Regions from separate parts of the Homo sapiens genome. Here regions 1 and 2 are each linked to region 3. The links come from fine-mapping of genetic effects on gene expression. A gene starts in region 3. Each other region holds a variant in brackets. All regions are shown on one strand. Distances are from middle to middle.

What was found. PIP is the estimated chance that this variant, and not a neighbour inherited with it, causes the effect. A credible set is the group of variants that fine-mapping cannot tell apart.
Region 1: its variant is the best candidate, but not a certain one, in a credible set for the expression of FN3K in whole blood (INTERVAL, PIP 0.83).
Region 2: its variant is the best candidate, but not a certain one, in a credible set for the expression of FN3K in ileum (GTEx, PIP 0.50).

Annotation. Positions count from the first base shown.
Region 1 is chr17:82,849,759-82,859,709 of GRCh38, reverse strand. The region is part of intron 13 of TBCD (tubulin folding cofactor D); the gene reads right to left. Among named protein-coding and RNA genes, the nearest start is that of ZNF750, 15 kb to the right of the region's middle. RefSeq lists enhancers at 1-477, 9,135-9,637. The variant C/T (reference allele first, on the strand shown) is at 5,393.
Region 2 is chr17:82,769,116-82,779,066 of GRCh38, reverse strand. TBCD (tubulin folding cofactor D) reads right to left here. Exons shown (of 39, transcript NM_005993.5): 6 at 6,560-6,615. Among named protein-coding and RNA genes, the nearest start is that of TBCD, 22 kb to the right of the region's middle. The variant G/A (reference allele first, on the strand shown) is at 4,680.
Region 3 is chr17:82,731,126-82,741,076 of GRCh38, reverse strand. FN3K (fructosamine 3 kinase) reads right to left here and starts at 5,462. Exons shown (of 6, transcript NM_022158.4): 1 at 5,300-5,462; 2 at 2,437-2,588; 3 at 223-314. The coding sequence starts at 5,440. RefSeq lists enhancers at 3,582-4,293, 4,294-5,006, 5,719-6,431.

The DNA.
Region 1 (9,951 bases), 120 kb before region 3:
CTCCCGGCGGGCAAGCCCTGGCCTCCAGCCTCTGCTGGTCCTCAGGAGCCTGTCCACAATTCTGAACTCCAACCTCCACTCTTTGTCCTCACTACAGGGCTCACACTTGGAGTCTGCAGTGCCGGAAACCACAGAGCAACTTCCGTAGCCCTGAAGTCACAGCTTGTGTGTCTGCTCACCCAACAGGACACACAAGGCCCAATCTCCCTGAAAGCCAGTGTGTGAGTGTAGGGAGGACACAGAGCTGGCAGGCCAGACGACCCACGAGACTCTCTTTCCCTGAAAGCCAGTGCGGGGAGGACACAGAGCCGGCAGGCCAGACGACCCACAAGACTCCCTTTCCCTGAAAGCCAGTGTGTCAGTGTAGGGAGGACACAGAGCCGGCAGGCCAGACGACCCACGAGACTCCCTTTCTCTGAAAGCCAGTGTGTCAGTGTAGGGAGGACACAGAGCCGGCAGGCCAGACGACCCACGAGACTCTCTTTCCCTGAAAGCCAGTGCGGGGAGGACACAGAGCCGGCAGGCCAGACGACCCACAAGACTCCCCTTCCCTGAAAGCCAGTGTGTCAGTGTAGGGAGGACACAGAGCCGGCAGGCCGGATGACCCACGAGACTCTCTTTCCCTAAAAGCCAGTGCGGGGAGGACACAGAGCCGGCAGGCTCCCCATGGCCTCTCGGGGCCCCGAGCAAAGACAATGAGGGTGGGACTCAGGGTTGCCACGCAGCCTGGCCCCGGCCTCACGGCCCAAGACCCCCAGCCCCACAGAGGCGCTGAGAGCCGCACTCATCCCCCCGCAGGAAGCGCCACTGACAGCAGTTCTCTTGTCTAGACAAAGTCCCAGCAAGTCTACACGGGGTAGCCCCAGGCAGCCACCCACGAGCCGCACCCTCCTCGCCACCAAGCGGGATCCTAAGACAGCCATGGACCGGCTGAGCAGGGCCCGTTCACACCGACAGGCCCTTCACACACTCAGTCGATTTTCCATCCACAGGAGGGTCAGAAAATATGAAGGTAAGTACAAGGAAAACACAGGAACCTCACCTCAGGCACATTCAAAAGCAACCCTAAAAAGTGTCCTGTGTCTGTGAGGCACACCCAGCGAACCAGGCCGTCCACACAGCACTGTCATCAACAGAAGCCCCAGCCAGCTACTTTCACAAGCAAAACCTGAATTTCAAGTCAACTGGGATCCTCCAGCCGTAGTACCTGTAGAACTGCCCAGCCAGACTGGCCAACCTGCATTTTATTTTAAATGCCGAATAGGCCTGGAGCTAGCAAAAACACGGAAGACAACAAAATTAGGAAGGTGTGAAAGTAAGTTTAGTAGGTAAAGGGTTTCTTCCAGGTAGAAAGATGTTCATTAAAAGATTCATGAAGAGGTTGCTTTCTGCACATGGTGTATAACCAAACCTAACTAGATCACTTCATGTTTATATGTCACAGCTTAGCTTTGATCCAAAAACATGAATTTCAACTTTCAAAAACAACAAAGGCTGGCTGGGCACAGTGGCTCATGTTCGTAATCCCAGCATTTAGGGAGGCTGAGGCGGGAGGATCACTTGAGCCCAGGAGTTCGAGACCAGCCTGGACAACATAGGGAGATCCCATCTCTACAAAAAAATACAAAAGTTAGCCAGGTATGATGGTGTGCCCCTGTAGCACCAGCTACTTGGGAGGCTGAAGCAGGAGGATCGCTTGAGCCTGGGAGGTCAAGGCTGCGGTGAGCTGTGATCATACCACTGTACTCCTGCCTGAGTGACACAGCAAGACCCTTTTTCAAAAAAAAAACTAAAACAAATTAAAATAATGCTAGATGACGAGTTAGTGGGTGCAGTGCAGCAGCATGGCACATGTATACATATGTAACTAACCTGCACAATGTGCACATGTACCCTAAAACTTAAAGTATAATTTAAAAAAAAAATGAAAAAAAAATTAAATTAAATTAAAAAAAAAAAAAAACCATGAGACACAAGCAGCAAGGTTGTATCATTTGTATGGCTCCTGTGGCTATGCCAAGTAATAACACTCCGACAAGCTTCATACTTTCCTGTCATTCAACAATACGTTACTCCATACAGAATCTCAACTCCAATTTAAAAGTGTCAAATATTTAAAACAAAAAAACAAAATACTTTTTAGACACCTGTATATGTGCATGTGTGTATGTACACATCACACACACCCAAAAACTGCACACACACAGAAAAGAACTGAAAAGAGGGAATTAAAACAATGGTGAAATGTTTACATTAAACACGACACAATACAAAGACATTATCAAAAGAAAAAAAAAGACAACCAACAGAATGGGAGAAAATACTTGCAAATGATATATCTGATAAGAGTTTAATATCCAGAAGATACAAACAGCTTTACAACTCAACAACAAAAGGACAAACAATCCAATTTAAAAATGGTCAAAGGACTTGACTAGACATTTATCCAGAGAAATACACAAACAACCAAGGAGCACATGAAAAGATGCTCAGTGTCATTCGTCATTAAGAAAAATTCAAATCAAAATCACAAGATACCCCCTCACACCTACGAGGCTGATTATAATTTTTTAAAAAAGAACAACACAGGTGTTGGTGAGGACATGGAGAAACCAGAAGCTCTGCGCCTTGCTGGTGGGAATGCAGGGCAGCACAGCGTCTGTGGAAACAGCTTGGGGACGCCTCAGTAACACACCGAGGGTCCGCACGCGGTCCAGCGATCCCGCCCTGGATGCGCACCGAGGGTCCGCACGCGGTCCAGCGATCCCGCCCTGGATGCGCACCGAGGGTCCGCACGCGGTCCAGCGATCCCGCCCTGGATGCGCAGCGAGGGTCCGCACGCGGTCCAGCGATCCCGCCCTGGATGCGCACCGAGGGTCCGCACGCGGTCCAGCGATCCCGCCCTGGATGCGCAGCGAGGGTCCGCACGCGGTCCAGCGATCCCGCCCTGGATGCGCAGCGAGGGTCCGCACGCGGTCCAGCGATCCCGCCCTGGATGCGCACCCAAAAAAGGGGAAGACAGGGATTCAAACAGACACTTGTACGCAAACGTTCACAGAAGCATTCTTCACAAGGGCCAAAAGGTGGGAAAACTTAAGTGTCCGTCAACTGTGTAAGGGCCCTGATAGCATTCATCAAGCTCTGTCCCTGTGACTCATCATCTACGAAAGGCCACACCTAACACTGTGCCCTTGGGAGTCAGGATTTCAGCAGGAATTTTGGGGAACGCAAGCATTGGGGCGTCTGTTTTTTTTCTTTTTTTCTTTGTAGAGACAGGGTCTCACCATCTAGCCCAGGTTGGTCTTGAACTCCTCGCCTCAAATGATCCTCTCATCTTGGCCTCCCAAAGTATTGTGATTACAGGCATTAAGCCACTGTTACTGGCCCCAGCTTTCTTTTGGTTAGTGTTTTCTCAGCATATTCTTTTCTGTCTTTCCTTTTAATCTTTTTATATTCTTGCATTTTAGATGTATGTTGAGTAAAATTCTACCATATGATTTTAAGCTGGTGAGTTTAGTCCATTTACTTCACTGACATGTTTGGGTGTCTTTGTCTTACTATATGAATTTTGCTTTTTCAGATTCAGGCTCATGCCTGTAATCACAATACTTTGGGAGGCCAAGATGAGAGGATCATTTGAGGCCAGGAGTTCAAGACCAACCTGGGCTAGATGGTGAGACCCTGTCTCTACAAAAAAAAAAAAAAAAAAAAAAAAAGTGGGGGGGGAGTCTACCCATACAAAGCAATATTATTCAGCCATAAAAACAAATGAAGGCCTGACACATGCTACAATACAGATGAACCAGGCACAAAGGGTCACGCATTGCAGACTCCATGTGTATAAAATTCTCAGAATAAGTAAACGTAGAGGCAGAAAACAGCCTGGCAGGTGCCAGGGGTTGGGAATACAGTCATGTGTCGTGATGTGTCATGACTATGTGAATGGACACCAGAGTATTTTTTCGGTGACAAAAATGTGTTAAAAGTAGACAGAAGTAATAGCTGTGCAACATTGGGTATGTACTAAATGCTCTGAGTTTTTCACTTTAAAGTTAATGGTTATTTTTATGTTATGTGAAATTTTACCTCAAAACACAAATACACACAGAAAGAGAGAAATGACTTTTTAAGAGCAAACACCTGGCCAGGCACAGTGGCTCACACCTGTAATCCCAGCCCTTCAGGAGGCCGAGGTGAGTAGATCACGTGAGCCCAGGAGTTCGTGACCAGCCTGGGCAACATAGTGAGATCCCATCTCTTCAAAAGATAAAAAAAATTAGCCGGGCACGGTAGCATGCACCCATAGTGCCACAGTGACTTGGGAGGCTGAGGTGGAAGGATCGCTTTAGTCCAGGAGGCCAAGACTGCAGTGAGCCGCGACTACACCATGGCACTCACTCCAGCGTGAGCAACAGAGTGACCCTGGCTCTAAAAAATTAAAAAAAAAAAAAAAAAAAAAAAAAAAAAAAAAAAAGCAAACACCTTTCCCTGCCCCTCTGGAAAATTCAGTCTTGAAGCATCAGGTGGCACCGCATAGGGTCTGCACATCCAGGAAGGGGTGGTGGGGGCCAAAGTGGCCCATATGGGGCGAAGAGGGGTCCGTGAGGTGGACAGCAGGGTGAGGGGGCAGCTGGCAGGCGGAGGAAGGCCACAGGGAGGAAGGCCACAGGGAGATGCGACGCCCCAATGCTTCTGTTCCCCAGAATTCCTGCTGAAATCCTCACTCCCAAGAGCACGGTGTTAGGAGGTGTGGCCTTTCGTAGATGATGAGTCCCAAGGACAGAGCTTCATGAATGCGATCAGGGCCTTTACACAGAGCTTTGCTTGTCTTGTGATTGGCACTGTTAAGTGGCTTGTGTCCACTGCGATGCTGACAGATCCACTCTTTCAATACGTGATAGAAATTTCACGTGTAGCTTTGTGCAGGGTTTTTCTGGTCATCGTTTCCAGCACAGAACGTCAACCATTCCTCCTGTTTCTTAGGTCATCTCTGGCACTCACTCCAGCACCGTGCTCTTACACTGCTGCCCAGCTCCCCCCAGCAGTCTGACTTTCTGTGCGACATGCAAACGTGAATGCTTGCCCCTTTTCTGACCACTGTTACCCATACAAGTAACCTGCAGGCCTTTCTGACATTTTCAACAGTATCTGTACACCCCCATACAAGTAACCTGCAGGCCTTTCTGATGTTTTCAACAGTATCTGTACACCACAGAGCAGAGGATACGCAAACACACGAGCGGTGCGCACAGGTCTCGCCCATGTGGAGCCTCATAAGGAGCCTGCAGCGCCTGCGTCCGGCCTGCACCCGACATTTCATCGCCCTTTGTGGACGTGCTTGCATGAGGGAACCTGGTCTTATGTGGAAAGGATTTATCAAAGCTGAAGGGGG[C/T]TGGGAGGATCTTTTTCCCCTTGGGGTGCTGAATCAACTGTGTGTTGTTTACCTGTGTTTTGACTGCAGCCCATCACCTGCAGAGTGTCAACTCAGCATTCAAAAAGTTTTCGGTTTTGGATTTTCGGATTCAGGGTGCTCAACCTGTAATGTCTAATGTTAAACAAGAAGAACTAAAAACTCAACAATGTCAAATATGTCAGATGGAAAGTGATCGAGGTCAGGGTGTGCTGTGTGTTACTTGGAGGGTAGGCTAAGAAGCTGGCTGTTGGCTCTGAATATTCGTGGTACAAGCTGAATACGACCCCTGAAGAAACACAGGAAACAGAATAGATGATTCCAAACCAACAAGGAAGAAGATGTGGAATGGGACTGGGTTGGGGGCCCAATAGGAACCACAACTTTTAAAAACAAAAAAAAATCTGAAAAAGCAAAATTCATATAATAAGACAAAGACACCCAAACATGTCAGTAAAGTAAATGGACTAAACTCACCAGCTTAAAATCACATACGGTAGATTTTTACTCAACATACATCTAAAATGCAAGAATATAAAAAAATTAAAAGACAGAAAAGAATACACTGAGAAAACACGAACCCAAAGAAAGCTGGGGCCATTAACAGTGGCTCATGCCTGTAATCGCAATACTTTGGGAGGCCAAGATGAGAGGATCATTTGAGGCGAGGAGTTCAAGACCAACCTGGGCTAGATGGTGAGACCGTCTCTACAAAAAAAAAAAGAAAAAATGAGCTGGGTGTGCTGGCAAACACCTGTAGTCTCAGCTACTTGTGAGGCTGAGGTCAGGGGATGGATCTAGCCCATGAGTTCAAAGCTACAGTGAGCCGTGAGTGAGCCACTGCACTCCAGCCTGGGCAACAGAGCAAGACCCTGACTCAAAAACAGAAAAAAAAAAGGAGGGGGGGTGTTGCTGGATGCAGTGGCTCAAGCCTGTAATCCCAGCACCTTAGGAAGCTGAGACAGGTGGACTGCTTAAGCCCAGGACTTTGAGACCAGCTACATGGCAAAACCCTACCCTTACAAAAAAAGAAAAAGAAAAAAAATACGACAATTAGCTGGGCGTGGTGGCACATGCCTGTGGTTCCAGCTACTCAGGAGGCTGAGGTCAGAGGATCACTTGCGCCCAAGAGGTCAAGGATGCAGTGAGCTATGATCACACCACTGCACTCCAGCCTGGGCAACAGAGCAAGAACCTGTCTCGACAAAATAAATTAATTTAAAAAAAAAGAGAGAGAGAAAGCTGAGTAGCCACATTCACATCGGGCATAAAGAGGCACTCTCCATCACGAGCTCTCGTCCTCGGGAGCCGCTCTCCATCATCATCACTAACCTCAAAACAGAACGCATCGCAAGCCAGACACGGTTCTGAGCTCTGAATACGTTCATTCCCTTAACTTTCCGAACAGTCCTATGCTCCAAGCCCAGGCCTATACCCAAGACAAAAACCACATCCACACAAAAACTCACACACGAATGCTTTATTCACAGCAGCCTACAGTGGGAAACAACCCAAACGTCTACCAACTGACAGATGGATAAATAAAATGCGGCCTCCATGTACGTCGTGGGCTGAATTCTGTCTCCCTGAAATCCACATACTGAAGTCTTAACCCCAGTGCCCCCGAGTGCCTGTATCTGGAGATGTGGCCCTTAGAGATGCGTAAGGTAAAATGAGGCCACGCAAGTGGGGCCCGGATCTGCTATGACCAGTGTCCGCCTAAGAAGAGGAAACAAGGACACCAAGACACAGACCGAACGGCGAGCACGCAGCAGGAAGGCAGCGCCTGCAGGCCCAGGAAAACCCGGAAGAAACCGAGCCTGCTGCCGAGCCTGCTGGCACCTCGACCTTGGACACCCAGCCTCCAGAACTGTGAGGGATACATTTGTGCTGCTTGAGCCCCCATCTGTGGTGACTTGTTTCCACAGCCTGAGCTGACTAAGATGCCACACGATGGAACAGGCTTCAACAAGGAAAAGAAAAGGAGCACTGCTGGGGGCTGCATCGCCCACGGACCACGCCAACGCCACGCTCGGGGCAAGGAGCCACCACAGAGGACCACAGGGGGCACGGTTCCATTCACAGGAAATGTCCAGAATGGGTAGACACAGAGAACCCATCTGTGGTGTCTAGGAGGGGGGGTTTATCCATCTGTCGGGGGGGTTGGGGATGACAGCGAAGGAGCGTGGGGTAAAATGTTCTACAACTGACTGTGGCGATGGCTGCAAAACTCTGCAAATGCGTTACAAGCCACTGAACTGTACACTTAATGACAGAACTGAATGGCATGTGAATTGCGTCTCAACAAAATCATTAAAAATCCTATGGGGTCAACAGTAATCGTTCCCGCTTACAAGCAGATGCGCTGAAGCAGTGAGGAGTCACTTTTCTATTCCCACCTGGGTCAACTTTGATAAATTACATTTCTCTCGGAACGTCTATTTTGCCTAAGCTACCAAATTTCCTGGCAAAAGATATTCTTAACATGCCATTTTCCATCTCCACGGTGGCTGCACGAGGGCTCCCTTCCGTGTGTAAGGCTCCTGCTTTCTGCCCGTCGGCCACGCGTTTATTGGTCCCATCAGCCCTCTCGAAGAGCTGCGTTTGGCTCTGTGTGTCCTCTCTCATCTTTGTCTTCCACCTCCTTCATTTCTAGGGTTCTGCTCACTGCCCTCTTCCCACCCGCCCTGTGCAGAGTGAACCTTTCTCCTTTTCTGTACACGTGTCTGAGGCCGAGTCACCAAGTGATTCCTGCCAGGGCCAGAGAGAACCTCGGGCCCTGTGGGCCACATGCAGTCCACATCGCAGACTCTGCTTGGTTGTGTTTATTCTCATTGATAACATTTTTAAAATGTGAAAACCCTTCTTGGCTCCAAAGCTGTACAGAAACAGGCTGAGGCCCCACTGGGCCTGCAGGCCACAATTTCGTCACACCTGTTTAAAGGTTTAAGTTTCCTTAGCTGCATCCCAAAATTTTAGATAGAATAATTTTGTGACTGTTTATTTTTATTTTTAAACTTTTTTAACTTTTTATTTTAAAACCTCCTGAGACTTGACTCATGTGATTTACACATTTGTATATCTTCTAACTAAAAATTATCACCTTTCCTTTATTATTCTGTATCCAGTTTTTAATTTCATTACTTTGTGAGCATGGAATACCATCTGTCCGCCAGTGAGTCTCTGAAATGTCTCGAGACTTGTTTTATGGCCTGGCTGTGTAATATCTGTGAATGTTCCTCAGGTGCCTACAAATGTGTATTCTCCAACGGCTAGCTACACGGTTCTGTATCAATTATGGAATCATGCCAGTCGCCTCTGCTGTTGAAATATTGTATGTGCACACACAGTATGTAATGTGCGTTTTATACATATCTATATCTCCACTACATATTTAGTTATCAATAATTGGGAGGTGTTTTGAGCTCTCAGGAGGATACCGGGTCTGTCCATTTATCTCTGCAGACCTATTAACTTTTGCTTTTCAGCTTTTAGAAAGCTGAGTCAGTCCAGACTCACCACAAGCCCCATACGAATTCAATGCAGGGATGGATCAGGGCTGATGAGGCCATGGGGGCCAAATCACCAGTCCATGCACAGCCATACTGTAGGGGGTCCGGGGTCAGCACACACAACCAACAACAGCACAGCCAACAACAGCACAGCCAACAGCAAAACAGCACAGCCAACAACAGCACAGCCAACAACAGGACAGCCAACAGCAGCACAGCCAACAACAGCACAGCCAACAACAGCACAGCTAACAACAGCACAGCCAACAACAGCACAGCCAACAGCAAAACAGCACAGCCAACAACAGCACAGCCAACAACAGCACAGCCAACAGCAAAACAGCACAGCCAACAACAGCACAGCCAACAGCACAGCCAACAACAGCACAGCCAACAACAGCACAGCCAACAACAGGACAGCCAACAACAGGACAGCCAACAACAGCACAGCCAACAACAGCACAGCCAACAGCAGAAGAGCACAGCCAACAACAGCACAGCCAACAGCAGCACAGCCAACAACAACACAGCCAACAACAGCACAGCCAACAGCAGCACAGCCAACAGCAGCACAGCCAACAACAGCACAGCCAACAGCAGCACAGCCAACAGCAGCACAGGCAACAACAGCACAGCCAACAACAGCACAGCCAACAACAACACAGCCAACAGCAGCACAGCCAACAGCAGCACAGCCAACAGCAGCACAGCACAGCCAACAGCAGCACAGCCAACAACAGCACAGCCAACAACAGCACAGCCAACAACAGCACAGCCAACAGCAGCACAGCCAACAGCAGCACAGCCAACAGCAGCACAGCCAACAGCAGCACAGGCAACAACAGCACAGCCAACAGCAAAACAGCCAACAACAGCACAGCCAACAACAGCACAGCCAACAGCAGCACAGCCTCAAGAGCTGCCGCGCACGGGGGCTACTGCTTCGCTTCTGCCTCCAGATTGTGCACAGCCCTCTCCGAGGACTACCAGGGAAGGGGGTTCCAGCAGAAGGTCCTGCCTGGCTGAGGT
Region 2 (9,951 bases), 38 kb before region 3:
GCACTCCAGCCTAGCAACAGAGCAAGACCCCGTAAAAATAAATAAATAAATAAATAAATAAATAAACCCCATCTCTAGAAAATAATACAAAAATTAGCCAGGCATGGCCGGGCGCAGTGGCTCATGCCTGTAATCCCAACACTTTGGGAGGTCAAGACGGGTGGATCACCTGAGGTCAGGAGTTTGAGACCACCCTGGCCACTATGGTGAAACCCCGTCTCTACTAAAAATACAAAAATTAGCCAGGGGTGCTGGCGCACACCTGTAATCCTAGCTACTCAGGAGGCTGAGGCAGGATAATCACTTGAACCAGGGAGGCAGAGGTTCAGTGGAGCTGAGATCACGCCATTGCACTCCAGTAGAGCCAAAATCACGCCACTGCACTCCAGCCTGGGCAACAAGAGCAAAGCTCCGTCTCAAAAAAAAAAAAAGAAAAAGAAATTGGCTGGGTGTCGTGGCATGCGCCTGCAGTCCCAGCTACTGGGGAGGCTAAGGTGGGAGGATTGCTTGAGCCTAGGAGATGGAGGTTGCAGTAAACTGTGATCACGCCACTGCACTCGCGCCTGGGCAACAGAGTGAGACCCTGTCTCGAAAAGAAAAGGAAAGAAAAAAGAAACTCATGTGTCCTCCCCAGGAGAGTTAACTTTAGCGGATCTGCAAAAGGGGCCCAGGGCAGTTAACTTCATCGCAGAAGGAAGCAGCATTAAGGTGGTGACAAACCGTGTTCCCTTTAAAACGCACAGAGTTCCCACAGAGCATTAGAAATGAATGGAAAAGCGGAATACTGTGGGCGGCAAGCCACCCAGGTGCCGAGGCAAGAGACCAAGGACACGAGCTGTTCCAATATAATAAAATATAAAACAAGAATAGTTATACCAGATACAGATCTTAGATATGATTATATATATCATTAATCATTAGTTGGTAGCAATTATTCTTTATTCCAATATTATAATAATCCTCGCTCTATAATCATAACCTAGGAAAAGCCAGGCCATACAGAGATAGGAGCTGAGGGGACATAGTGAGGTGTGACCAGAAGACAAGAGTGCGAGCCTTCTGTTATGCCCAGACAGGGCCACCAGAGGGCTCCTTGGTCTAGCGGTAACGCCAGCGTCTGGGAAGACGCCTGTTGACAAGCGGACCGTGGTCTAGCGGTAGCGTTAGTGTCAAGGAAAAACACCCGCTACTTAGCGGACCGGGAAAGAGAGTCTCCCTTTCCCCGGGGGAGTTTAGAGAAGACTCTACTCCTCCACCTCCTGTGGAGGGCCTGACATCAGTCAGGCTCGCCCGCAGTTATCCGGAGGCCTAACCGTCTCCCTGTGATGCTGTGCTTCAGTGGTCACGCTCCTAGTCTGCCTTCACGTTCCATCCTGTACACCTGGCTCTGCCGTTTAGTTAGCAGTAGCAAATTAGTGAAAAGTCTCTGATAAGCAGAAATAATAATGTAAGCTGTTTATCTCCTTCTCCTCTCTCTCTCTCTGCCTCGGCTGCCAGGCAGGGAAGGGCCCCCCGTCCAGTGGACACGTGACCCACGAGACCTTACCTACCGTTGGAGATGGCTCACATTCCTTACACTGCCCCTTTGTCTTGTATCCAATAATATCAGTGCAGCCTGGCATTCGGGGCCGCTACCGGTCTCTGCAACTTGGTGGTAGTTGTCCCCCGGGCCCAGCTGTCTTTTATCTCTTTGTCTTGTGTCTTTATTTCTACACTCTCTCATCTCCACACACAGGGAGAAACCCACCGACCTTGTGGTGCTGGTCCCTACAGACACAAAATGGCACTAAAGCAACTGGTTACCTACTGGGAAGGGCGGGGTTCTACTGTAGACCAAAAGAAACCCCAAATGAATCAATAATTCTGTCTTAATAAACGGTAGAGAAAAATATAAATGACTACTTGTTAAATCTCTTAATAAGACTGCAGGCTTAAAAGTAAAAATAACTAAATAAAGGAGAAAAAAACGGTTTGACATTAAAATTAAAACTTTGGTCCAAAAAAAAAGGAAAAGGCCAACAACCACCTGGGGCAATACCCATCGCCCTTCACCGGAGGAAACTCACACTCGTGGGGAAGAAAAGGCCCCAAGGAGCCCACAGACACGCAGAGTCAGGTCACGAAGCGGAGTATGTAACACCTAAGGTGAGGGCAATCAGCGTGATGCCAATTAAATACCTGCAATCAGCGACACCATGTTTAATCCAATTTGGGGGTGGGGTGTTCCTGGGGCTGCCTCGGCCACCAAAGCACTGCTCAGAGAGCAGCTGAGAGCCACCAGGTGTGCAGACCCCAACACCACTCTCGTGTCCTGGAACCCAGAAGTCCATCTCTAAGGGCCCATCCTCACGAAACAATCCTGACACGAGAACGGGTCTGTAACCAAACCCAGGCGTCCGTGACTGCTCACAAGAGGCAGGAAGTGACAGAGCTGAGTGCAGTATCGAAACACAGCAGAACACGACGGAGCCATTCATCAGCAGTTACATGAAATCAGGTGAAAAAGCACAGTGCTGACTCTGACTTGTTAAGATCATGCTGTGCACATTAAAAGTCATAACGGTGCAAAGAAGATAAACACGGTACACGCACTGTGTATAAGAATTACCTATATATCTTTTTCCAACTTCTATGTTTCAAGATTTTCAACTTTTTTTTGAGACAGGGTCTTGCTCTGTTGTGCAGGCTGGAATGCAGTGGCGCAATCACAGCTCACTGAAACCTCAACCTTCTGGGCTCAAGCAATCCTCCCACCCAGCCTTCGGAATAGCTGGGACCACAGGTGCGTGCCACCACGCCACGCCAAGATTTCCAACTTTTCTGCATACAGCGTACCTCTTTTTTTTTTGAGATGGAGTCTTGCTCTGTTGCCCAGGCTGGAGTGCAATGGTGCGATCTCTGCTCACTGCAACCTCTGCCTCCTGGGCTCAAGCGATTGTCCTGCCTCAGCTTCCCAAGTATCTGGAATTAGAGGCACGCACCACCATGCCCAGCTAATTTTTTTGTATTTTTAGTGGAGACAGGGTTTCACCATGTTGGCCAGGCTGGTCTTGAACTCCTGACCTCAGGTGATCCACCCGCCTCAGCCTCCCAAAGTGCTGGGATTACAGGCATGAGCCACCGTGCCTGGCGAAAGGCATATCTATTAAAGGGGTTTTTTTTTAATTTTTTTATTATTATACTTTAAGTTTTAGGGTACATGTGCACATTGTGCAAGTTAGTTACATACGTATACATGTGCCATGCTGGTGTGCTGCACCCACTAACTCGTCATCTAGCATTAGGTATATCTCCCAATGCTATCCCTCCCCCCTCCCCCCACCCCACAACAGTCCCCAGAGTGTGATGTTCCCCTTCCTGTGGGTTTCTAAGGCAGCACTCAATCTGCATGTTCTAGCAACACTGTAACACCAAGCACCACCTACAGCGCTGTGGATGTTGGCAAGCTCAGTTAATCAAGGGAGACGGGTGCAGCTGTAGAGCCGCCAGTGATACAGGGAGAAGCATTCAATCCTGAGAGCAAAGTGGGCTAGAGCAGGCTGCTCCTCCCTGGAGAGCAGAAAACGAACCTGTACTGCAGACAAATGCTGGCACAGGACCCCTCGCAGCCCTGGCCTTACCTGAACAATCCTCACCAAAAAGGGGTCTGAGAAGTACAGGAAACTCAGAACCTGCGGTGAGTCTGGGAGGTGTCGAGGGAACCGGCCAAGCACCTGTAAGAGCTCTTCCACTGACGGCATCCGCCATTCTCAAACACTCTTGAGAATCAGTGTGCGAGAGTGTGCGAGACCAAGGGGGAGAAAGGCTCCACGGCACCGACGCCCCCAGGCACCACCTCTCCTGGATCCCAGGCTCAGGTGTTCTGCACGGAAACTGGCTCGGCCGAAAAGCACCTGCTCATCCCGGCACTAGGTGGCGCTGCGGTGTCTCGCCGGGAGTCCGCCCGGGATCCCGAGCCAGCGCGCTCTTTTCCCGGAGGACCCCACGGAGGGAGAAGTACTCAGATGGTGCCTCCTGGCCCACAGGCACCGCACTCCACAGAGCCAAGCTCGGCAAAAATCTACGCAACCCTCAGTACTGCTGCTAAGAAAAGTAAGAATAAAAGCAGATACTATTTCCCATTGAACGAAGTTGGCAAACATTCTTAAGGTTTGACCCAACTGGAAAAGACGGGGAAAGAACTTCCAACTTGTTCAGCCTCTCCAGTAATTGCATTCAGACCCTGAAAACGTGCGTTCCACTTGTAGAAACTCATCCCTAGAAATCAGTCAGAACGGTACACAATTTTACGTGGACTGTTTGCAATATTGAGTTTTAATACCAAATTGGGAGGGCAGCAGTCTAAATGTCCCACCACAAACGACAGGTAGACACACTCGGGTGGGGGGCAGCCCCCGCCCGGCCGCCGCTCCGTCTGGGAGGTGGGGGGTGCCTCTGCCCGGCCGCCAAGTCTGGGAAGTGAGGAGCCCCTCTGCCCGGCTGCCACCCCGTCTGGGAGGTGTACCCAACAGCTCATTGAGAACGGGCCATGATGACGATGGCGGTTTTGTCGAATAGAAAAGGGGGAAATGTGGGGAAAAGAAAGAGACATCAGTTTGTTACTGTGTCTGTGTAGAAAGAAGTAGACATAGGAGACTCGATTTTGTTCTGTACTAAGAAAAATTCTTCTGCCTTGGGAT[G/A]CTGTTAATCTATAACCTTACCCCCAACTCCGTGCTCTCTGAAACATGTGCTGTGTCCACTCAGGGGTAAATGGATTAAGGGCGGTGCAAGATGTGCTTTGTTAAACAGATGCTTGAAGGCAGCATGCTCCTTAAGAGTCATCACCACTCCCTGATCTCAAGTACCCAGGGACAAAAACACTGCGGAAGGCCGCAGGGTCCTCTGCCTAGGAAAACCAGAGACCTTTGTTCACATGTTTATCTGCGACCTTCCCTCCACTATTGTCCTATGACCCTGCCAAATCCCCCTCTCTGAGAAACACCCAAGAATGATCAATAAATACTAAAAAAATTAAAAAAAAAAAAAAAAGACACACTCGGGCCAGGCGCGGTGGCTCACACCTGTAATCTCAGCACTTTGGGAGGCCGAGGTGGGCGGATCATGAGGTCAGGAGATGGAGACCATCCTGGCTAACACAGTGAAACCCCATCTCTACTGAAAATACAAAAAAAAATTAGCTGAGCATGGTGGCGGGCACCTGTAGTCCCAGCTACTCGGGAGGCTGAGGCAGGAGAATGGTGTGAAACCGGGAGGCAGAGCTTGCAGTGAGCCGAGATCGTGCCACTGCACTCCAGCCTGGGAGACAAAGTGAGACTCCATCTCAATTAAAAAAAAAAAAGAAAGAAAAAGAAAAGACACTCTCGCACCAGGTCATCTCGTTTTGGAAGAAGACAATGGCGCACCAGGCCCATCTCCTGGTCCGTGGTGCAAAGAATTGAGTGCAGCAACTGAGCCATGGACAGAGTTGGTGCCGCCCCGCGGGGAGACCATGGACAGAGTTGGCGCCACCCGGTAGGGAGACAGGGGCCATCACACCCCCATGGGATGAAAGCATTCAAAGGTTTTATTTTGTACTTCATGCTCTATTATCTAAATATATACAGATTACTTTAATAATTAGACGATCATCTTTTTATGTCCTTGACAAGACAGGAAGCAGCCTCTGCCCTCTCGGGAGGGGCCTCACCTGCTCCAGGGGACTCAGGCGTTCCTTCCTCAGCTCCAGGCTGTCACAAACCCCTCATCCAATGCCTCCAACTGCCCCACAAAGGAAGCTTCTCTCCTCCCACTTCTCTGGGAAAGAAGCTGTGCAAGTTGCAGCTACACACCCGAGTGAAGGTGACGCTGCATGAGGCACTGACCGTATTCCCAACCACAACCACCGAAAGGTTTTAGGACCAGCTTTCGACTTTCACTATTGCAGAGGGGGAAAATGTCAACTGTTCTGACTTAGTAAACTACATACATACTTAAAATCACATGTCATGTAAAATACTGATTAGAAATATTGCTTTCTTCCTTCTTGCATCTCATGAAACAGGTTCGCTCAGTCTATACACACATCCTTGGTATCTTTCCAACACCGCAGGCCTGCTGCGCTCAGCAGAGAAAACCACCTTCCCCTGTCTGGGGCACACGGGGGGTGCAGTTAATACAGGACGTTGGGGGATTTTCATCCCCAGTCACAGAGGCCCAACACCACCCATCATCTCCATGGGAGACGGCCCGAGATGTTTCTCATAACTGCCACCCCATCCCTGTGCAGGGGCTGCACCCCAGGGATGACAGCCACGCCTCTTCCAGACCTGCACTCCTGTCGATGGGCCTGTCAGGTGACCCCCACCAGCACCCCAAACCACCACTGAGGGTGGTCATTTCAGGGTCAGAGGTCTTCTGTGCCCAAACACTGCTGCACACTCCCTCAGAGAAAGCCACAGAGTCCAAAGACTTCCCGGGGTCCTTCGTCTGAGGACTGAAGACGCACATGAAACACGTACCCAAACAAACCCCTCTCAGAACCCACCAGCCACACACCAAGAAATGTGCCATGGAAACTTACCTGGACACAAGGACAGCAGCTGCATCTCGGGCCTTGTCACTGACAATCAAGTAGGACTGCAAGAAAGGGTGAAGCACAGACACGGTCACTCCTGCACACGCCAGCCTTGGGGACACCACACAGTCACCAGTCCCACCCTCACCAGCTCCCCGAGGGCCCAGGTTCACAAACCTTACCAGCACAGGCCTAAGTCCAAAGCTGCAAAAAAAAACCTCTCTTCAATCTGAGCCAAGGGCTACAGCTGCCAACTGCTACACTCACCCAGGAAGTGCCTGAGCTACACAGAGCATTTGGTCACACCCCCTTGAAACACACATTTGCAAGAACAGAGCAGGAGAATGTAAACAAAGGAGTTACCCAATTGTAACAAAGAATCAAGAGTATTCATTGAGCACCTAATATGCCTTCCAGCACAAGGGAACCATCAGTATTGGAGTATTCAGACTAGATAAGAGGCCCTGTTCAAACTGAAGAGCACCTAGATTTACTACAAATACCTAGTTATTTTTAATTTTTAGTGTTTAATTTTTGGGGTACATAGTAGGTGTATATATTTTTTGTTTTTGTTTTTGTTTTTTTTTTTTGAGACGGAGTCTTGCTCTGTCGCCCAGGCTGGAGGGCCGTGGCGCGATCTCGGCTCACTGCAAGCTCCGCCTCCCAGGTTCACGCCATTCTCCTGCCTCAGCCTCCCCAGTAGCTGGTCTTAGGGTTTTTTTGCTGTTGTTTTGAGACCGGGTCTCGCTCTGTCACCCAGGCTGGAGTACAGTGGTGTGAGCAAAGCTCACTGTAGGCTGGGCACTGCGGCTCACGCCTGTAATCCCAGCACTTTGAGAGGCTGGGGCAGGCGGATCACCTGAGGTCAGGAGTTTGAGACCAGCCTGGTCAATATGGTAAAACCCCGTCTCTACTAATGACACAAAAATTGGCCAGGCATGATGGCACATGCCTGTAATCCCAGCTACTCAGGAGGCTGAGGTGGGAGGATTGCTTGAGCCTCAAAGGCAGAGGCTGCAGTGAGTTGAGATTAGACCACTATACTCCAGAATGGGTGACAGGGCAAGACTCCATCTCAAAAAAAAAAAAACTCACTGCAGCACCAACCTCCCCAGCTCAGATGACCCTCCCACCTCAGCCTCCAGAATAGCTGGGACCAAAGGTGTGTACCACCACACCTGGCTAATTTTCTTTTATTTTTTGGTAGAGACTGAGTCACATTATATTGTCTAGGCTGCTCTCAAACTCCTGGGCTCAAGCTATCCTCCCACCCTGGCCTCCCAAAGTGCTGGAATTACAGGCATGAAACCTCCACGCCCAGCTAGATTTATTTTTCGGAGGGCTGCCTTAAAATGTTTCCAATGCTTGTCTCGGTTTTTTTTGTTTGTTTGTTTGTTTTTTCCCATAACGATACACTTAGAAGATCTTTTTTTCTGGGGCAGGCTTTTTTTTTTTTTTTTTTTTTTGAGACGGAGTCTTGCTCTGCTGCCCAGGCTAGAGTGCAGTGGTGCAATCTTGGCTCACTGCAACCTCTGCTTCCCGGGTTCAAGCAATTCTCTGCCTCAGCCTCCCAAGTAGCTGTTCATTTGTAAGAGAACAGTTGAATAAATATGAAAGGATCACAGGCACTAGCCACCATTCCCGGCTAATTTTTGTATTTTTAGTAGAGATGGGGTTTCACCATCTTGTCCAGGCTGGTCTTAAACTCCTGACCTCGTGATCCACCTGCCTCGGCCTCCCAAAGTGCTGGGATTACAGGTGTGAGCCACCGTGCCCGGCCTCCGGGGCAGGCTTTCTAACGGCAATCACAGAGTGCCAAGTCTTGACAAACCATGCTCCCTTGACCTGGCAGTCCCTCTCCACAGACAAGTAAACAAGGGTGGGTAAACCATACTACTTTTTTTTTTTTTTTTTGAGACGGAGTTTCACTCTTGTTGCCCAGGGTGGAGTGCAATGGCGTGATATCGGCTCACCACAACCTCCGCCTCCCAGGTTCAAGCGATTCTTCTGCCTCAGCCTCCTGAGTAGCTGGGACTACAGGCACGTGCCACCACGCCCAGCTAATGTTGTATTTTTAGTAGAGACAAGGTTTCTCCATGTTGGTCAGGCTGGTCTCGAATTCCTGACCTCAGGTGATATGCCCACCTTGGCCTCCCAGAGTGCTGGGATTACAGGCGTGAGCCACCGCACCCAGCCCATCACCACACTACCTCTAACGTAACAAAACAAGAACAAACAAAACATCCATCTATCAGAGAGAATTTTAAATTAGATTACAATGGAGTACCTTTTCCCTTAACGATTATGAGGGGGACACTTTCTGACATCGTAAGACACTAAGAACGTGTTGCTGAGGGTAAAAAGGACTCAGAACAGCAGGTCATGGGGCAATGCTGAGCCCTGATGAAGAGCACAGACTCCAGATAAACCGCCTGGATTCAAACATGGATCCACCATTTATGAGCAAAGTAAACTAAGTTATTAATTTTTATGCCTGTTGCCTTCTCGGTTAAACGAGGGTAAGAATTGTCAACAGCCTCATGAAGGAGAATTCAATGATTATTAATCACAGTTAATTAATCACTGATGATCTATCAATCATCAACGTATAGGTTAAATTTTTTTTTTTTTTTTTTTGAGATGGACTCTCGCTCTGTCACCCAGGCTGGAGTGCAGTGGCGTAATCTCAGTTCACTACAATCTCCACCTCCCAGGTTCAAGGGATTCTTCTGCCTCAGCCTCTTGAGTAGCTGGGATTACAGGTATGTGTCACCAGGCCCAGCTAATTTTTGTATTTTTAGTAGACACAGGGTTTCACCATGTTGGCCAGGCTGGTCTCGAAGTCCTAACCTCACGTGATCTGCCCGCCCCGGCCTCCCAAAGTGCTGGGATTACAGGAGTGACCCACCATGCCCAGCCCAATGTATAGGTTAAATTATTAATCCATAAGTGATTAAAGATTAATCTATGAGTGTTTGAACGGTGCCAGGCACACAGCAGGCACTCAGTGAATGCTGACCAGGGCTGTCGCAGTCAGCGTGGCAGGAAGACCGAGACAACTGAGATGGCTCAGAGCCTGACAGCCTCCTAGTGCTCGCTTGCGTAGGCTGGACTCGGTGACTTGCTGCTAACCACAGGATCTGGCAGAGGAATGGGACGTCACTTCCATGATCAGGTAACATATTATCATGACTTCCATCTCATTAGCAGAGTTTCTCCCTTGCAGGCTTTGATGGAATAAGTCACTAAGTTGGAGGGGCCCAGGTGGCAAAGAACTGAGGGTGGCCTCAATCCAACGGCCTTGGGGCAAAGCCTGCCCATGTCGAGTTTTAACTGCAGCTGTGGGCAAGCTTGACACAAAGGACCCAGCTCAGCCATGCCAGACTCCCGACCCACAG
Region 3 (9,951 bases):
AGACAGGAGGGCTGGGTATAAAAGGGATCATGTGCCAATTCTACTAGCTTATCAGCTACATCAAAATTCTTATTTAATAATCTCATTTTCATAATGTAGTGTAAAGACAGACGGTATACAACTCAACCTATTATTGAAATGCCACCAAGAAGTACCATGAGCACCCATCTAGGGTAGACAATGTGGCTGGATCAAGGGTACCCAAAAGCAATCTGAACATACCCACTGTGTTCTCCTCCTCCTTCAACTTCTCCCTGAGCTTCTGGTTGTAAAGATGCAAATCTGCCATCTGCTCTCCAAGTTTTGATGCTTGACTGAGGAAAGAAGAAATGCAGCTAATTAAAATAACAAATAATAAATAACACCACCCAGTTTGTTCCATTTTGAGAAAGGTTTAAATACATTGAAAACTATTCTCCATTCTTCAAACAGTAAAAAGTGAACACCAGGCAATGACTCTTTCTTTTGCTTTTTCTTTCTTTTCTGGGGCCAGGCCTTGCTCTGTCATCCAGGCTGGAGTGCAGTGGCACAATCATGGCTCACTGCAGCTTTGACTTCTAGGGCTCAAGCAATCCTTCCACCTCAGCCTCACAACTAGCTGGGACCACATGCCTGTGCCACCATTCCTGGCTTTTTTTTTTTTTTTTTTTTTTTTTGTAGAGATGGGGTCTCCTCCTGCCTCGGCTTTCCAAAATACTGGGATTACAGGTGTGAACCACCACGCCCAGCACTGGCAAAGACTCTTTCCAGAAAATAACATCATGTAATCACAAACAGGAATTAACCAAGTGAGCTTCAACAGAAGTCTTAGGAGGTACCAGGAATTAAGGGAGGAATGCTGAGAAAGTAATGATAAGTGAAAATGCAGGGCCAAGCATAGTGGCACAGTGGCTCAGGCCTATAGTACCAGGACTTTGGGAAGCCAAGGCAGGCAGATCATGAGGCCAGGAGTTCAAGACCAGCCTGGTCAATATGGTGAAACCCCATCTCTACTAAAAATACAAAAAATTAGCCAGGCATGGTGGTACACCTGTAGTCCCAGCTACTCTGCAGGCTGAGGCAGAAGAATCATTTGAGCCCAAGAGGCAGAGCTTGCAGTGAGCCTAGACTGCACCACTGCACTCCAGCCTGGGCGACAGAGTAAGACTCTGTCTCAAAAAACAAAAAAAAAAGGAAAGAAAAAGCAAAAGAAAAAGATGGACTGGGTGTGGTGGCTCACACCTGTAATCCCAACACTTTGGGAGGCCAAGGCAGGCGGATCACTGAGGTCAGGAGTTTGAGACCAGTCTGGCTAACATGCTACTAAAAATACAAAAATTAGGCCGGGCGCGGTGGCTCACGCCTATAATCCCAGCACTTTGGGAGGTCAAGGCGGGTAGATCACGAGGTCAGCAGATCGAGACCATCCTGGCTAACATGGTGAAACCCCGTCTCTACTAAAAATACAAAAAATTAGCCGGGCATGGTGGCGGGCGCCTGTAGTCCCTTCTACTCGGGAGGCTGAGGCAGGAGAATGGCGTCAACCCAGGAGGCAGAGTTTGCAATGAGCCAAGATCGCGCCACTGCACTCCAGCCTGGGTGACAGAGCGACACTCCGTCTCAAAAAAAAAAAAAAAAAAAATAGCTGCGTGAGGTGGTGGGGTGCCTGTAATCCCAGCCACTCGCGAGGCTGAGACAAGAGAATTGCTTGAACCCAGGAGGCGGAGTTTGCAGTGAGCCAAGATTGCATCACTGCACTCCAGCCTGGGAAACAGAGCAAGACTCTGTCTTGGAAAAATAAAATAAAAATAAAGTACAAAGCAAATGATGGGTTCAAATATACTTATTTTGGGCAGGTGTGGTGGCTCAGGCCTGTTATCCCAGCACTTTGGGAAGCCGAGGTGGGTGGATCACTTGAAGTCAGAAGTTTGAGACCAACTCAGCCAACATGGTGAAACCCCATCTCTACTAAAAATACAAAAATTAGTCAGGTGTGGTGGTGGACACCTGTAGTCCCAGCTACTCAGGAGGCTGAGGTGGGAGAATCATTTGAACCCTGGGGGCAGAAGTTGCAGTGAGCCGAGATTGCACCACTGCACTGCACTCTAGCCTGGGCAACAGAGCGAGACTGTGTTTCAAAAAAAAAAAAAATATATATATATATATATATATGTGTATATATATATATTTTATGCAGCCTCATTACAGCCAAACTTATCTAGGAAAACCAGTCACATACCAGAAAGCAGTAACTTTTTATCTCCATTAAGAATGGCAGGGTGGAACTCTTGGCCCTGCCTCTGATAACCGGGCAGTTGTGTGGACGGCTCAGCCACAGGCTTCTCCCTGTTTCTGTCTCCCTCCCCATCTCTATCCCTTTCTCTGTCTCTCTCTGTTTGTCTCTGAGTCTCTCTCTGCCTGTACACATGTGCGCATATGGGTCTCACACACACTCACCTGCTCAAGCTCTTCATCTTCAAATGCTCCATCACAAAGGCGGCCCCACCTCCCGGCAGGTCGATGACCTTCATGGGCCTCGGCACCCGCACCAGGCCCGTGCTCCTGAGGGCCTCCAGGCTGGCCACCTCCCCCTCAAACATCTGCCGGGCCTGCATCCAGAACACAGCCTTGTCAGCCTTGTTGACTCAGCCAGGGCCTCTGCCCACTGGGCCCTTGACAGAAGCTACCACGTGGGAGTCACAAGGACCTTCATTCACTGATAGCTGGCTCTGGCTGGGAGCTGGCGTCCACCACAGAGGGCAGGGTGCAGAGGGGCCCCCCGTCGGAGACGAGAGGCTGCAAGGCTGAGGCTGAGCCTGGGCCGTGAGGGGTGTGGGGTCTGCAGGCTGCTGTGACAGGAGGATGCACAGGCCACGTGTGGGTGCCCGGGAGCACTGAGGGCGTGGGGAGGTGTGAGTGAACCAAGGTCCAGAGCTGGACCCCCGGGCTACCCACCTTCCTTGCTGCCTCTTAGGGTGGGGCAGCCACAGCAGAGGCCTCACTGGAGCTAACTTGGGCACACACGTCAGGCAGGGAAGAAGAGGGCTGGGCCCATCAGGCGGGGCCTCAGGTCCAGGGCAGGGGCTGGGAAGGTAAAAGGCACGGCACACCCGGCCGGCCCCCAACGCCTCCCGTGGGACCTGGGCCTTCCTGTTTCTGAAATATTCCCACAAACATTCCAGTTTTCAGTTAGGTGAACACTCACCTCACGTACAGTACACATTGGTTGAAAACATGCATTGACGAACGTGGTCCATGAATACCTTGGCCTATAGAATTGCATGTTTGTTTTGAGACAGGGTCTCACTCTGTCACCCAGGCTGGAGGGCAGTGGCATGATCTCGGCTCACGGCAGCCTCCGCCTCCTGGGTTCAAACGATTCTCCTGCTTCGGCCTCCTGAGTAGCTGGGATTACAGGTGTGGGCCACCCCACCCCGCTGTGTTTTTCTGTATTTTTACTAGAGATGGAGTTCCACCGCCGTGCGTGGTGGCTCGCACCTGTAATCCCAGCACTTTGGGAGGCCGGGGTGGGCGGATCACAAGGTCAGGAGATTGAGACCATCCTGGCTAACACGGTGAAACCTCGTCTCTACTAAAAATACAAAAAATTAGCCAGGCAAGGTGGCGGGCACCTGTAGTCCCAGCTACTCGGGAGGCTGAGGCAGGAGAATGGAGTGAACCGGGAGGCGCAGCTTGCAGTGAGCCGAGATCCAGCCTGGGCGACAGAGCAAGAGTCCGTCTCAAAAAAAAAGAGATGGAATTTCACCATGATGGCCAGGCTGGTCTCAAACTCCTGGCCTCAAGTGATCCACCTTTCCTCAGTCGCCCAAAGTGTAGGACTGCATGTTTAAAAAAATCAAACCTCATGAATGAGACCAAAGCATCTGCTGGTGCACACGAACAGAACGCCCTTTCCTTCAAAGTACCCCAGGGAAAGCCCAGGCACAGCCTCCCCAGCCTGGCAGCCCTGGCCAGCCTGCACCGAGGGTGGGTGTGAGTGTCCACAGGTGGGAGGGCGGCCGGCACACCCCAGCCCTGCTCCAGGGCGAGCCCCCCATGCACCAGGCCAGGAACTCCCGGCCTTGGGGCTGCTAAGCCCCAGGGGCCCCAGCATCACCTGCTCTTATGCATGGACTGAGCAGCTACTATGTGCCGGCCCCTCGTGGGGGTGGGAGGGAAGGAGGGGTCTCACCCTGCAGAGCTTTCAGGACCAGCTGAGGAAGTTTCCCAGAGCCCGTGGGAAGCCTGAACCAAAAACTGCTTCCCTGTGAGTAGGACTCCCCACTTTGAGGGATTTGGTTCTGAGCCGGCAGAGCAGGTGATGCCGGAGGATCCGATCGCACGCCCAGGCTGCATGGCTCTGGTGTTCCTCCTGCCAGCACTCCCCACCAGGACCCCTGCTGCCCCTCAGAGAGCTCCCCCACCAGAGTGTGCAGGGCCTTCTGAGCCCACTCGGGCCGGGAGGGCACCCAGGCCTGCCTTTCTCCACCTGCCGGCTCTCAAGGCTGAAGCTAACCTTCTCCACTTCCTCCGTTAACATTTTCCATACTTTTTTTTTTTTGAGACGGAGTTTCCCTCTTGTTGCCCAGGCTGGAGTGCAATGGCGCGATCTTGGCTCACTGCAACCTCCATCTCCTGGGTTCAAGCAATTCTCCTGCCTCAGCCTCCCGAGTAGCTGGGATTACAGGCCAGTGGCACCACATCCGGCTAATTATTGCATTTTTTGGTAGAGACGGGGTTTCACCATGTTGGCCAGGATGGTCTCGAACTCCTGACCTCAGGGATCCACTCACCTCGGCCTCCCAAAGTGATGGGATTACAGGTGTGAACCACCGCGCCCGGCCTTCCATACATTCTTAAACAGAACTATTTTCAGCAGGAGATAGAAATCAGGTCTAAACACAGACAAGGCCTGTGGGAAGGAGAACGCTGGCCTGGCCCGTGGGGTCCCTGCCAGGGGCCCAGCCATGTCTCTGCTTCTTTCCCACTGCCAGGAGGACGGTGGGCTGAGAGGGGCGGCCCAGAGCTGAGCCAAGGACCCCAAGCCTCACATCCCCCGACGCTTGCTGGATAGGAAAGTTAAAACCACCCCTAGAAGCCTGTGCGCTGCGCATGGAGGCCAAAGGAAGGTCACGGATCGTGCAGACACAAACCTTCACAGAACGCTTGAGCCGGGCTCACCCAGCAGGTGCCACCTCCCAAGGGCCAAAGCTGACCCCTCCCCAGGCCCAGCCCCAGGAAATGCGCCTGCCCCCGACCCCTCCGCCTTCCCAGGCCCCGCAGAGACCCGCAGAGCCCCCGCCTGCGCACGGGCCAGCACCTGCGTCCTGCGGTTGACTTTGACGAACACTGGGCCTGCGTCCGTGTCGTAGGCTCGGCCCTCGCTGATGCAGCCGGCGCCGGGGCCGCCGAAGGCCCGCAGGGTCGCGGTGCGCAGCTCGGCGCGCAGCAGCTGCTCCATGGAGTGCGGGGCGCGGGACTCTGCTCGCTCGGAAGCCCCTGTCGGCTGAGGCGCTGCGGGGCGGGGCGGGGCGGGAGCGCGCGGCGCGTGACCCCGGGCGGCGGGAGGGGCGGCCTCAGGCGGGCTCGCCGCGCGCTCCCCGCGTTCGTCCGGCTTCGCGCTTCCTGCGCCCGGGATTCGGGGGAAGCAGCCGGGAGTCCGCGCAGCTCTTCGCGGGCGCGCTGGGGCTTGAGCTCCCTGCAGGGACCCGGTATCCCTGCCCCGCAGCGGACGCAGGTCCGGCCCTCGGCCCGGGCGCTGGTCACAGGCCTGGCCGGCTTCCCACACTGCAGACCAGGCCGGGCCCAGCGGCCCCCGTGATGACGTGGGGCTTGCGCACTGGGACGCCAGGTGCCGATCGGAGAGAGAGGCTGACGTGGGGGCTCCGATGGCACGCGCTGACCCGGCCCAGGGTGGGGCTGCTGATTCCAGGATGTCCTGGGAAAGGGACTTGAGACACAGGAATGCCCACGCGCGCCCATGCATGCATACACGTGGGTACACACGCGTGCACACGAGCAGGTGCGCACCTGAGCCCAGTCCGTGCTGAAGTCATTTGACGTGAGGTTTTTTTATTGTTTGTTTTTTGTGTTTTTAAGAGATGGAGTCTCTGTCTCCCAGGCTGCAGTGCAGTGGCGCGATCTCGGCTCACTGCAAGCTCCGCCTCCCGGGTTCAAGCCATTCTCCTGCCTCAGCCTCCCGAGTAGCTGGGACTACAGGCGCCCGCCACCACGCCCGGCTAATATTTTTGTATGTTTTAGTGGAGACAGGGTTTCACCCTGTGAGCCAGGATGGTCTCAATCTCCTAACCTCGTGATCCACCCGCTCGGCCTCCCAAAGTGCTGGGATTACAGGCGTCAAGCCACCGGCCCGGCCTGCCCAGCTACATTTTGTAGTTTTAGTAGACATGGGGTTTCCCCATGTTGGCCAGGTGACCTGCGTGCCTCAGCCTCCCAAAGTGCTGGGATTACAGCCGTGAACCACCACGCCCGGCCATGCATGAGGTTTTAATCAATAAATCTGTTTTTTTTAGGGCCCCAACAATTGTCTTTTCCCACAGAGATGCAGGGGTCCTGCCGCGGGGAGGGAGCCTTTGGGAGCTGCCTATCCCCGCGGTCCTGCCCACTTGCTCAGCTGGGCTGGGGTCATCGGGAGGCTCCTTAACTCCTACATCTGGCACCTCGGCCAGGATCACTGGAACCTGGGCTTAGCGGTCACTGTCAAGCAGGACATGTCCATGTGGCCTCCTGGTGTGGCCTGAGCTTCCCTGAACATGGAGGCCAGGTTCCAAGAGTGAGCACTGGGAGAGCCAGAGCTCCCAGAGAGCTGGCAGAAGCAAAGGCCTTTTCTGACCTGGCCTCAGAAGCCACACACCATCATTTCCACCTCCTTCCATCGGTCTCCAAAGCCGCAATCAAGGCAAGGGGATCCGCAGCCACCTCTTTTTTTTTTTTGAAACAGGGTCTTGCTCTGTCACCCAGGCTGAAGTGCAATCTCGGCTCACTGCAACCTCCACCTCCCGGGTTCAAGCGATTCTCCTACCTCAGCTTCCTGAGTAGCTGGGATTACAGGCACGCGTCACCACGCCCCGCTAATTTTTGTATTTTTAGTAGAGACGGGGTTTCACCATGTTGGCCAGGATGGTCTCAAACTCCTGGCCTCAGGTGATCCGCCTGCCTCAGCCTCCCAATGTGCTGGGATTACACATGGCACCCGGCCAAGCAGCCACCTCTTGACAGGAGTGGCAGGGCTGCCGCAGAACAGCAGGTAGGACAGGAGGATGACTGTGGTGTCTGCAGAAAGGGCATGTGCCAGTCCCTGGCTTTTTCTCATCTGAAGCCCACCCTGCTATCGCATCTTGACAGAAGGTTCCTGACAGGCCAGTGTGAGCTCTCGTACGTCTGTAAATTTCTTTCTTCCTAGTTGACAGTTTGGCTGGGTATCAAATTCCAGCTTGGAGATCAGACCATGTTCTTTAGGAACCAAGAAGCTGCCAGCTCCAGTTTTGATGTTGAGAAGCTTATGGCCATTTCAGTTCTTATTCTTTGTGTGGAAACTGTTCTATCTCTGCAGGCTTTTAGGGTCTTCTCTGTGACACCAGTGAAAAATTCCCCAGGGAGGTGTCAGGGTGAGTCTCCTGTCATCCCCTGAACAGGACTGGTGGGTCCTCCAATCCTGGGACAGCTTTTAGCCCTTCATGGCGTTCTCCCTCTGTATTCTTGGTTCTCTTTTTTGGAATTCCAACACTGTGGTCTAGAGTCAGTCCTCTCTGTTACTGCCTCAAAGCCCCTTGTAATTTTTCTTCATACAACTCATGAGTCTACAGTCAGATATTAGGCGTCACACAGAGAACCATACGAGTGCTCAGGTCTCTCAGTGAGAAGAGGTGCCTGAATGAAGAAACAGATATGCAGGCACCAGGCTAGGAAGTCCTCTATGTGGGGGGTTAAGAGCTGTTGAAGATTCAAGGGCAGGGCAGTTAAGTGATCCCAAGTTTCTTAGAGAATTAGTAGAGTAAATTGTATGGTGTGCAAATAATACTGTTTTTAAAACGACCTGTATCGGCTGGTTGCAGTGGCTCATGCCTGTAATCCCAGCTCTTTGGGAGGCCGAGGTGGGTAGATCACAAGGTCAGGAGTTCAAGACCAGCCTGATCAACTTGGTGAAACCCTATCTCTACGAAAAATACAAAAAAATTTTAGTCGGGCATGGTGGCACACACCTGTAATCCCAGCTACTTGGGACGCTGAGGCAGGAGAATTGCTTGAGCCTGGGAGTGGAGGTCGTACTGAGCCGAGATCACGCCACTGCATTCCAGCCTGGGTGACAGAACAAGACTCCGTCACAAACAAAACAGAACCTGCCCTCTGTCCGGTTTCCCGTTCTGGGAGTGGTACCACCCATCTTTTTCCCCATCTGCCTGGATGTCTTAGTACAGGGCCTGGTCTGCGGTGCTGGTCAGGTGTCGGGGCCACCCATGCTTGTGATCCTACCATCAGCCCAGAGGAGAGGCGTGGACGGAGTAAAGGTGGGATGTGGACCTCAAGCTGGAGGAATCAAGGAGGACCCAAGAAAGGGGCCTGGCACAGACATGGGCAGGGTGTGGGGAGACCACAGGACAGAGCTGAGCCTGGCTACAGAGCTGGCGCCACCCAGGCCTGGGGTGTGGGCTTGATGAAGGAAGTCTGAGAATGATATCCTAACCTCACCCACCCTCCCCATCTCCTCTCGGCTCCCCTGGGCCACCCCAAGCAGAGGCCAGCTGGTTAATGGAGTGGTTCAGGCAGAGGCGTGGATGGGTGGAGGTGGGATGTGCAGACGTGGCACAGGCTTCAGTGAAATACGTGGACAAGCCGGTGGCACTGCTCCCTCTCTCTCACCACCCTGTCCTGGCCCCTCCATGGCTCCTGGGCCTTTGCCCTTCTCACAGTCCTGCTTACCCACTCACAGGAAAGCCCCCGCCAGCCCTCTCCCTGCTGCCTGGAATTCCCCCTCCAATATACCCCTTACAGTGCACCCCTACATCATCTTTCCAAGATACAGGTCTTCCCCACCCCGAGATGGAGTCTTGCCCTGTCTCCAAGTTGGAGTGCAGTGACACGATCTCGGCTCACTGCAACCTCCGCCTCCCGAGTTCAAGCAATTCTCCTGCCTCAGCCTCCCGAGTAGCTGAGATTGCAGGCGCACGTTACCACGCCCAGTTAATTTTCATATTTATGGTAGAGACAGGGTTTTGCCATGTTTGCCAGGCTGGTCTCGAACTCCTGACCTCAGGTGATCCGCCCACCTCGGCCTCCCAGAGTGCTGGGATGACAGGCGTGAGCCACTGCGCCTGGCCGCTTTAGGCGCACTTTCATTAAAAGGATGAAAAGTAAAACGCTTTGGGACAGAAGGCTTGTCTTCAGGTATCTAAAGATTCACTTCTGTGGAAAAGCTGACGCTCTGACTGTGTTAGATTAGGTGTTTTGATATAATCCCACTTACAGTAAGAAATAAAAAGTGGAGCCACATTGCCCCCAAGATCCCAAAGATGAGAACTGAGAGTCCTGGATGGGAGCTCAGGGCAACTACCATTTCCCTGGACTTCCTCCCCGGAGGTCCTAGCGATGTTCACGGCTGCCCAAAGAGAACAAACCTCTTCCAGCTGTTCCCTTGACCGAGGAGTCTCGGAGCTGTGTCCAGAGCCCAGTCCCTCTGTGCTTTCAGATGTCAACACAGCAGCCTGCAAGGACATAGCACACAGCTGTCCCTTAAAACCATGTCTCCAGGCCGGGCGTGGTGGCTCACGCCTGTAATCCCAGCACTTTGGGAGGCTGAGGTGGGTGGATCACGAGATCAGGAGTTCAAGACCAGACTGCCCAAGATGGTAAAACCCCATCTCTACTAAAAATACAAAACAAAATTAGCTGGGCACGGTGGCAGGTGCCTGTAATCCCAGTTGGGAGGCTGAGGCAGGAGAATCGCTTGAACTC